2 linked regions of the Homo sapiens genome follow. The protein of the gene in region 2 purifies or fractionates together with the protein of the main gene of each other region. This does not show direct contact. Each region holds a gene or a part of one and is shown on either strand. Other genes may lie near its edges.

The links.
Region 1: the proteins of SLC12A1 (region 2) and MIB1 purify together in Homo sapiens (affinity purification with mass spectrometry; one large-scale study listed by BioGRID and IntAct). This does not show direct contact.

What each region holds. Positions count from the first base shown.
Region 1 is NC_000018.10:21,743,522-21,747,346, reverse strand, and holds part of MIB1 (E3 ubiquitin-protein ligase MIB1), read right to left. Parts: intron 1-3,825. UniProt on the Homo sapiens protein: E3 ubiquitin-protein ligase that mediates ubiquitination of Delta receptors, which act as ligands of Notch proteins.
Region 2 is NC_000015.10:48,204,593-48,209,106, reverse strand, and holds the start of SLC12A1 (solute carrier family 12 member 1), read right to left. Parts: upstream 2,806-4,514; 5' UTR 2,777-2,805; intron 1,574-2,776; 5' UTR 1,388-1,573; coding exon 968-1,387; intron 1-967. UniProt on the Homo sapiens protein: Renal sodium, potassium and chloride ion cotransporter that mediates the transepithelial NaCl reabsorption in the thick ascending limb and plays an essential role in the urinary concentration and volume regulation. Electrically silent transporter system.

The sequences.
Region 1 (3,825 bases), on a different chromosome or scaffold from region 2:
TAAGTTTGAGAAGTACTGACACAGGGGTCTACTAGTTGATTTCTTGAAGTCCTCAGCTCAACCAAGCTGCAATCTACAGGGACTATTAAGAACTAGATAGACTTTCATAATTTACAACATTGTTTTAGTGGAGGAAATAAAATAAGAAAGACATTTTACAGAAGCCTTTAAAATAGGTAGGATCTATGAGGAAATAAAGTTTTCCTTGCAGATGTCATTAATAAAAAACATTTTGTGATATTTCATCCTTTCCAGGTGTGGCATCCTGCTCCCCAAACATTGTTCCCTCAAATCCTGTTTTTTCCTACGGCTTTGTGTCCTGACAAATACCCCTTTCTACTGTGGTTCTAGAAACAGATCAGAATAGGGGACTCTATTCTGATAAAGAAAAGCTGAGGATTATTAATTCATTTCATTTTTTTAATCCAGGGTCAGCCCTTTTAAACCTTCAACTGAATACAAAACATCTGAGAAGTTTTTCCACGTATGACTGGAGAGGCATTCTTTGCTAGCGGTCAAAGACAAGGACAAAGAACTACCCCCAAAACAGTTTGAATGAACTATGACCAGAAGCTGGTTTTGAATAAAGCTGATTTTCTATACCTCTAACTCTGTATTATCGACACGAAGAATGACAGAACCTTAACAGGAAATCTACATTCATTTTCTCCATTATCTCTGGTAACAATACAACACTGTAGTCAAGTGAACACAAAGCAAGCATAAATAAAAACACATTTTTCTCCAACTCCTATAAAATCAGTGCCTAGATGATAAAAAGTCAACTATACCTACTTGACTACAGACTTTACAAAATTAGTCCAAACTAATTAAATAACATCCCATATAGTCCCAAAATCTTCTTGCTCACTACAAATGAGCCAAATGAATCTCGAAACAAGACAGACGTTATATCACTCAAACAGATACTAAATGCTCCTCTCTGCAAAGTTTAACTATCCTAGACCATAAATTCAAACATATCATGTGTGTCCTGAAAGAAAAAATAAAGCTGATATGCCAAAATATTAGAGACCCGCATACAACTCCCAGACAAAATCTTCAAAATGTAGTGAGAAAAATCGTATCAGAAAGATTCACAATGATCCAACCACTCCAGAATCCTTAACTCCCAGAAAAGTTGCAAGGAATCTTATGCTGAAGGTTACCCATTTCTTAATTCCCAATCATACTGCAATAAATTTTCTATTCATATAATATAGGTGGAACTAGGGAACAAATGATGAATAATCAAAGGCAACCTCAGTTCTCCCTCTGATAAATATAAGGCTTTTTTTTAAATTAAGTACAAAAATATGACACACACAAAAATATAGAAAGGGCTGGGTGTGGTGGCTCACACTTGTAATCCCAGCACTTTGGGAGGCTGAGGCTATGGATCACTTGAGGTCAGGTGTTCGAGACCAGCCTGGCCAACATGGTGAAACCCCGTCTCTACCAAAAATACAAAAGTTAGTCAGGTGTGGTGGTGCATGCCTGTAATTCCAGCTACTCAGGAGGATGAGACAGGAGAATTGCTTGAACCTGGGGGACGGAGGTTGCAGTGAGCCGAGGTCACACCACTGCATTCCAGCCTGGACCACAGAGGGAGACTGTCTCAAAAAAAATAAAATTTTGTGTGTGTGTGTGTGTGTGTGTGTGTGTGTGTGTTTAACACCTATGCACTCACCATGGGGTAGGTTTAATCACAGAACATTACCAAAATACTTAAATGCCCCTGGTGTACTTCCACCAATCGTGCTCTCCACTCCCTTCACCATAAGGATGTCCCACTCTCTTAAATTTAGTGTTTATCTTACCTTTACGTGGCATACTTTTACCACGCATGTACATATCCCTAAACCAATGAGTCTCAATTGGGAGCAATTTTGCCCCCACTAGGGGACATCTGGCAATGTCTGGAGATATTGTGGGTTGCCACAAGGAGGTGGGGTGCTACTGCTGCTAATGGGTAGAGGCCAGGGATGCCTGCCTACAATGCACAGGACATTCCTATAACAAAAAATTATCCTATCCAATTCAAAATGTCAATAGTGCCAAGGCTGCAAAACCCTACCCTAAAATAGTTTTGTTCCGCACTTTAACAGACCGTAGGTTTTCTTTTGCAACTTACTTTATTTGCTTAACATTCTCTTCTATACAGTACTGCACTATACAAATTCATACAACTTATCCAGTCTCCTGCTAAGGTACATTTAAGTTTTTTCCAATTTTCTGTTTTTACATGCAACACTGCTGTGAACATTCTTTTTTAAATTTTATTTATCTCAAAACCATAGTAACTGCTGTGAACATTCTTATACAAGCTTCTATGTGCTCAAATAGAGATTCTCTCCAGGGCAGTGACTTTTAAAGTGTTATTCTTCAACCTCTAGGGAAATCCTCAAGACCCTTTGAGGGACTTCATGAAGTCAAAAGTATTTTCACAATAATATGTAAGATACAAGTTATCTTTTTCATACTGGCATCACATTGCTGGTACAAAAGCAACAGTTGGTAAAATTCCTGGTGACCTAGCCGAGTTAACGCTATAATTAATGAGACATACGAACACCATGTACCTCCTGGTACGATGCACTAACAAGGGCAAAACATCATTTCTATGATATTCTTGCCGAAAATACATAATCTGAATTTAATCATGAAAAAGCAGCAGAAACACCCAATTTGAGAGATAACAAGATTGTTTTTCATTACTTTGACACTGACTAAAGACTGAGGAACTCACCCAGATTGGAAGAGACCACTAAATGCAACGTGTGATCTTGGATGAGAAAAAGAATACTAGTAGGACACTAATAATAACCACTGCATATAATTTGAATAAATAAAATTTGAATAAGGTGTATAGATTAGTTAATACAGTATTACCGTATTAGTGTTAATTTTCTGGTTTTGATCATTGTACTTGCTAAGATATTAACAGCTGAAGAAGGTGGGTAAAGGGCAAAAGGCAACTCTTACTAGTTTTGTAATTTTTCTGGAAGACTACAATTGTTTCAAAAACAAAAGTTAATTTTTAAAATGTTAATATTATGCAAATAAATATCAAGTACTTAATAAATATTGAGTAATCTTATAGAATGTAATAAAATGTCAGTGAACACTGATTATTAAATATTTTGAAGAAAAAGGAAAACACTGAAAGTAGTATTATAGTCCTGGGGCAAAACAAGAGCCAGGAGCTTACAATTTTGCTCAGTTCTAAAAAAAAAAAAAAAAAAAAAACCCTGAAGAATTTAAAAGGTTGAAATTAAAATATATTTCAACAAGTATTTCATATGAAGGTTGGCTATCCTGCTCTTAAAATGTTTGTTAAAAGACCAAATGAACAAGATAAACCACTACATATAACAAATTAATGTATAAAATTATCTTATTAAACTAAGATTCTAAAACAGTTACTTCTGAAAAACATCTACGTTTATATTAAGATAATAAAACTATTAATATGATAGATACACCCCATACTACAAACATATAGATAACATTAATGTCCCTTCAAAAATCACCGTAGTAAAGAATCTGTTACACTTTACCCTAGATACTTAAATTTCCTCATAAAGCTACAATTACTGATACCAAGAATTCCTCCAAATAAGGGTTGTGGTCAGACTTTAGCTTGAGCTAGCACGACAACAAAACTTCAAGGCTGCAGGTAACAAAACAAAACCCTGTCTCAAAAAAAAAAAGAGTAGGCAGAAATTAGGCATAGGCCTCAAACACTGTTGCTGGCAGTTTCAACTCACAAAACGTCTTCAAAAAGCAATTAGTCAACATCTACCAAAATGTTAAATATGTGCA
Region 2 (4,514 bases):
CCGGGCAACAAGAGCGATACTTCGTCTCAAAAAAGATTGGGAAAAGTGCTGCCTCACTTCTAACAGACTTGGGAACCCTGGCTGTATTTCTTAAATAATGAAAAGTTTAGTCACTTCTGCTGCTTCTGTACTTTAATTTAGTTATTTTTATATGCTTAAGCACATTCAGGAGCCTCAGGCAAAGTTTTAAAGAGGAAGGGATAAAATGCTGAATCTTATAAATCTCTGCCCTTTCTTTAAAGAATATAAAAAATACCCCTACACACTAAAGGCTGTCACCCACAGTATTAACTACAGCAAGCACAAGTGTTTTGCTTTTTATACGATTGACATAGAGACATTAATACTGACGTGAAACCAGCTTGGTATTCAGTTTGACGTGTTTAACCAAGTGTGAATTGAGTGGACTATAATCATATACAAGGTACAACATATTGCCTAACATTTAGAGTTAATTCTTTAGTTCTCTATCCTAAGTCAGAAAACATTTGTGGAGCTGGGCACAGTGGCTCATGCCTGCAATCCCATCTCTTTGGGAGGCCAAGGTGGGAGGATCCCTTTAAGTCAGGAGTTCGAGACCAGCTTGAGCAACATAGCAAGACCCTGTCTCTACAAAAAATAAAAAAGTTAGTCAGGTGTGGTGGTGCATGCCTGCAGTCCCAGCTACTCAGGAGGTTGAGGTGGGAGGATTGTTTGAGCCCAGGAGTTCAAAGCTGCAGTGTCCACCACACTTCAGGCTGGGTGACAGAGCAAGACTTTGTCTCAAGAAAAAAAAAAATCCAAAGAAAAAGCATCTGTGAAACACTTTTCTGGGAACTAGGGACAGTTTTGTAAGTAAGATGGATAGTGTTTGGAATAGACCTCTCCATTTGACTGTTTCACATTCATTCATAGTGTAATGAAAGAGAAGGAAATTATCTGAAGTTATGAATAAGGGAGGAGACTTGCTTGTGTCCTTCAAGCTTACCTTTGCGAGTTGCTCGTGAATCTCAAGCAGGCTGGGTCGGTTGACCTTGGGCCCACTGATGCTGCCGGTGTTACGATAGTACTCTATCTTGGGAACGGCATCCATGGTGTTGTGGCCAAAAGTTTGTAGATAGTATGTGTTTGTGTGAGAATCATAAGCGTGAAAACTGGCATCTGTTTTAGCAGTTTCTCCACTTTGGAGGAAATTGTCATAGCACTCCTGATTCCCAGGCCTAAAGCTGATTCTGAGTCTTTTCTGAGCTTCATCCCCAAAAGAGGTTTCTTCATAATGTGGTGGGTCAGTATTGTCATCTGCAGCTGCACTGCTCTCATGGTTCTCATTTATGACACTAACTTGAAAGCGATTGGTATTACTGGGCACTGAATCCAGAAATACATTGGAAGAGTTGTTCAGTGACATCTTCCAAAATTGATTTTTTACTGAGCTATCTACTTTGTGGTTGTTTTAAAAAATCTATATATTTCTTCATCAAAATAAACACTAATGTGCTTCCATTAGGGAGCTCCTGGCTTTTGTTCTAGATGATTCAATAAATAGATTCTTGATATATTGTCTCCGATATAATCTTCAGGATGTTCTTCAAAGCTGTCATTGAAAAAGAAAATTAAACTTGTTCCAAGTAATACAAATATATTTAGGTAAGGGTGGGATATAAGGGAACAGTTTTATTTTACAAGACATACAATTTTAAACTCATTTCACTAAAATTTATCTGTCCAGGAACCTTAGTCATGTGAGTAATTAAATCTGATAATAAATAACTGGAAAACTGTTCCAGCAAACAGAACTTCCAATGCAGTCATTAAAATGTTACCTGTGTTTGTAGTATTTGCTTGAATTCAGTGCACTGGAGTTCACTGTGACTTTAGAAAAGATGTAACTTTACTTATTGAATACAGTAAGAGCTGATGAGAATATTCTCAGCCTAAGACACAGTTCACTGACAGTACTAAATGCTGAAACTGCAAAGTATTTTGATTGTTAGGAATATATACTATACAACATATAAAATGAAAAACAAAACTTCTAAAAAATATATTCTTGCTAGTTTATAAAAATCTGTACATGTTCAACTTATAAATTCCAAATTTTGTTACCTATGCAACAAGTAAAAAATTATGTTTTAGAATATGCATTTAAAAAATACATCCCATCAAGATGATGTCTCTGTGAATTCTTAGATCTTTTACAAGATCCAAATGTTTCATTTGCTCATACATTTGTTTGTTTTGCAAATACTAACATGAAACCTTAAAAAAATATGAATATAGAAATAAGTCATATATCTATAAGAAATAAGTCATATACCTTAAAAAAGTCCTCTGCTATGTTTAGGTAAAATAATCATGCTCTACTGACTCATTTTAATGAAATGTCTTCAATAATTGAGAGGTTTATATTTGACTGTGAGGTGAATAGACTTCACAATAATTTTCGCAATTTCATAGTACTGGCCTGTCTTAAAACACTTGCTTTAGAATTATATTTCCTTATTGATACCTTAAAATTTGGCTTTTCAAGGGAAGTTCTAGAAAAATGAGATAAATATAAATAAAAACTTGTCTCTCTCATGCAGTTATTAAAGCTGTGTATTTGAATTAAAAAAACCCTCAACTTCATTTCTCAAGTAACCTTTCCTGGGGAAATTATAAATGAAGCTATTATCGTTTTAGTTTTTACAAAACACTTCTCTTCATAGTCCTTGACACCCTCACCTACTCCTCAGAATCTACTTTATGACATAATATTAAGTATGATTTTTACCCTGCCCAGAAATGTTCAACTTACCACCAAGGAGCCTTCTTCTGAGGAAATGTAACCTGCTTCAGCGTCACCCAGGAATATATGGGACACTTAGCTTTCAGCCAGAAAGTTAGGCTTCTGCTTATTGGTTAGAAACTTTCTTGAAAGAGATGACTGTGCAATGATTGGCCTGGAATAGTACTGTAAGCCCCACCAGGTCATTAGCCCTGAGGAAACTTAAGTACCACATCAACTGGTAACTAGTAGTAAACCATTAATCCTTTTAGACAGGAAGTAACATAGAGTTTCTTTAATTCATAAGGAGAATTGGATCCCTTAACAGCAATTGTCCAAAAAATATGAGCATTGCCATTAGTCATTTGGGAATAGATAAATTGAGTTCCACCGTCTTACAGATGAGTCCTAGTGACCTCCTATTGTTTAGCATGTGTATCAAAATATAGTTCTCCAGAGACAATTTCTATACTCTGTAACTAGAAAGTAGTGTCTGAAATGATTTTATCTTGCTTGTAGTAGACATTACCTTGACTCTTTTGCATGGGAAGTAAGCAGATTAAGAGTGGAATCAATGATTTATTGAAAATATTTCTATTTTGGGAAATATGGGAAAATTTTTTTTTTTTGAGATGGAGTCTCGCTCTGTTGCCCAGGTTGCAGTGCACTGGTGCAATCTCAGCTCACTGCAACTTCTGTCTCCCAGGTTCAAGTGATTCTCCTGCCTCGGCCACCTGAGTAGCTGGGATTACAGGCGCCCACCACCACGCCTGGCTAAATTTTTTTGTAATTTTAGTAGAGATGGGGTTTCACCAGGTTGACCAGGCTGATCTTGAACTCCAGACCTCAGGTAATCTGCCCGGCACAGCCTCCCAAAGTGTCAAGATTACAGGTGTGAGCCACCGCGCCCAGCAGGGAAAACTGTTTTAAGCAGGAACCAAACTGTGGGTAAGCATCTCAGTGGCACTACTAAATGACCTTTCTGTCTCCAACTAGAAAAACATTTTTTTGTCCAACTCAGTTTTTGAGTTTTGTTGAGGAAAAGGTTTTTCTTTTTCAGATCTGCAAGTAGGTGATTATTAACACTGCAAACAATTCCTCCCTCAAGTCTGTCACTGATTATCAATCAGGATGATTGAATGAGTCCTCTTTGTTTCTTATAAGAAACGATTTAAGTGATTTCCAGTTGTCTGAGTAGCTCGGTTGTGGTGTAATATAGTGGCTAGGAGCAAGACTCAAGTCAGAAGGCCCAACTTATGTCGTGGCCCTGCCACTTGCTGTCTGTGTGAACTCAGTCAAGTTACTCAATCTTTCTGTGCCTTAATTTTCTCATCTGCAAATGCAGTTGTGGATTATAATTGTACCTACCTTGTTGTAGAGTTATTTTGAGGAATAAATGAGTTAGTTTGTGTATGGGGTTTAGAACAGCAACAATTTGTACCTAGTGCTTGCTTTCACTATTTTAGCGCTATTTACAATTAGCTGGGGATTTTTACTTAGCACATACAAGATTGTGAGGTGAATCATTAGAGATTGGGATAGATATTTTGTCTATAAAAAATAAGTGTAAAGGTAAGTTAGTGAACTGATACAGGATTATAGAAGTGTCTAGAGACACCTAAGTAAAACCCTTTAGATCCTCTTCGTTAAGTAAATGTCATGCTAATCAGTCAGGCTAATGTCGTGAGGCTATATCAGAAATAGAGACAGAATTACAAGTATATACCTATAACTCATTCCACTCTTAAAGGTCACCAGTACAAGGCAT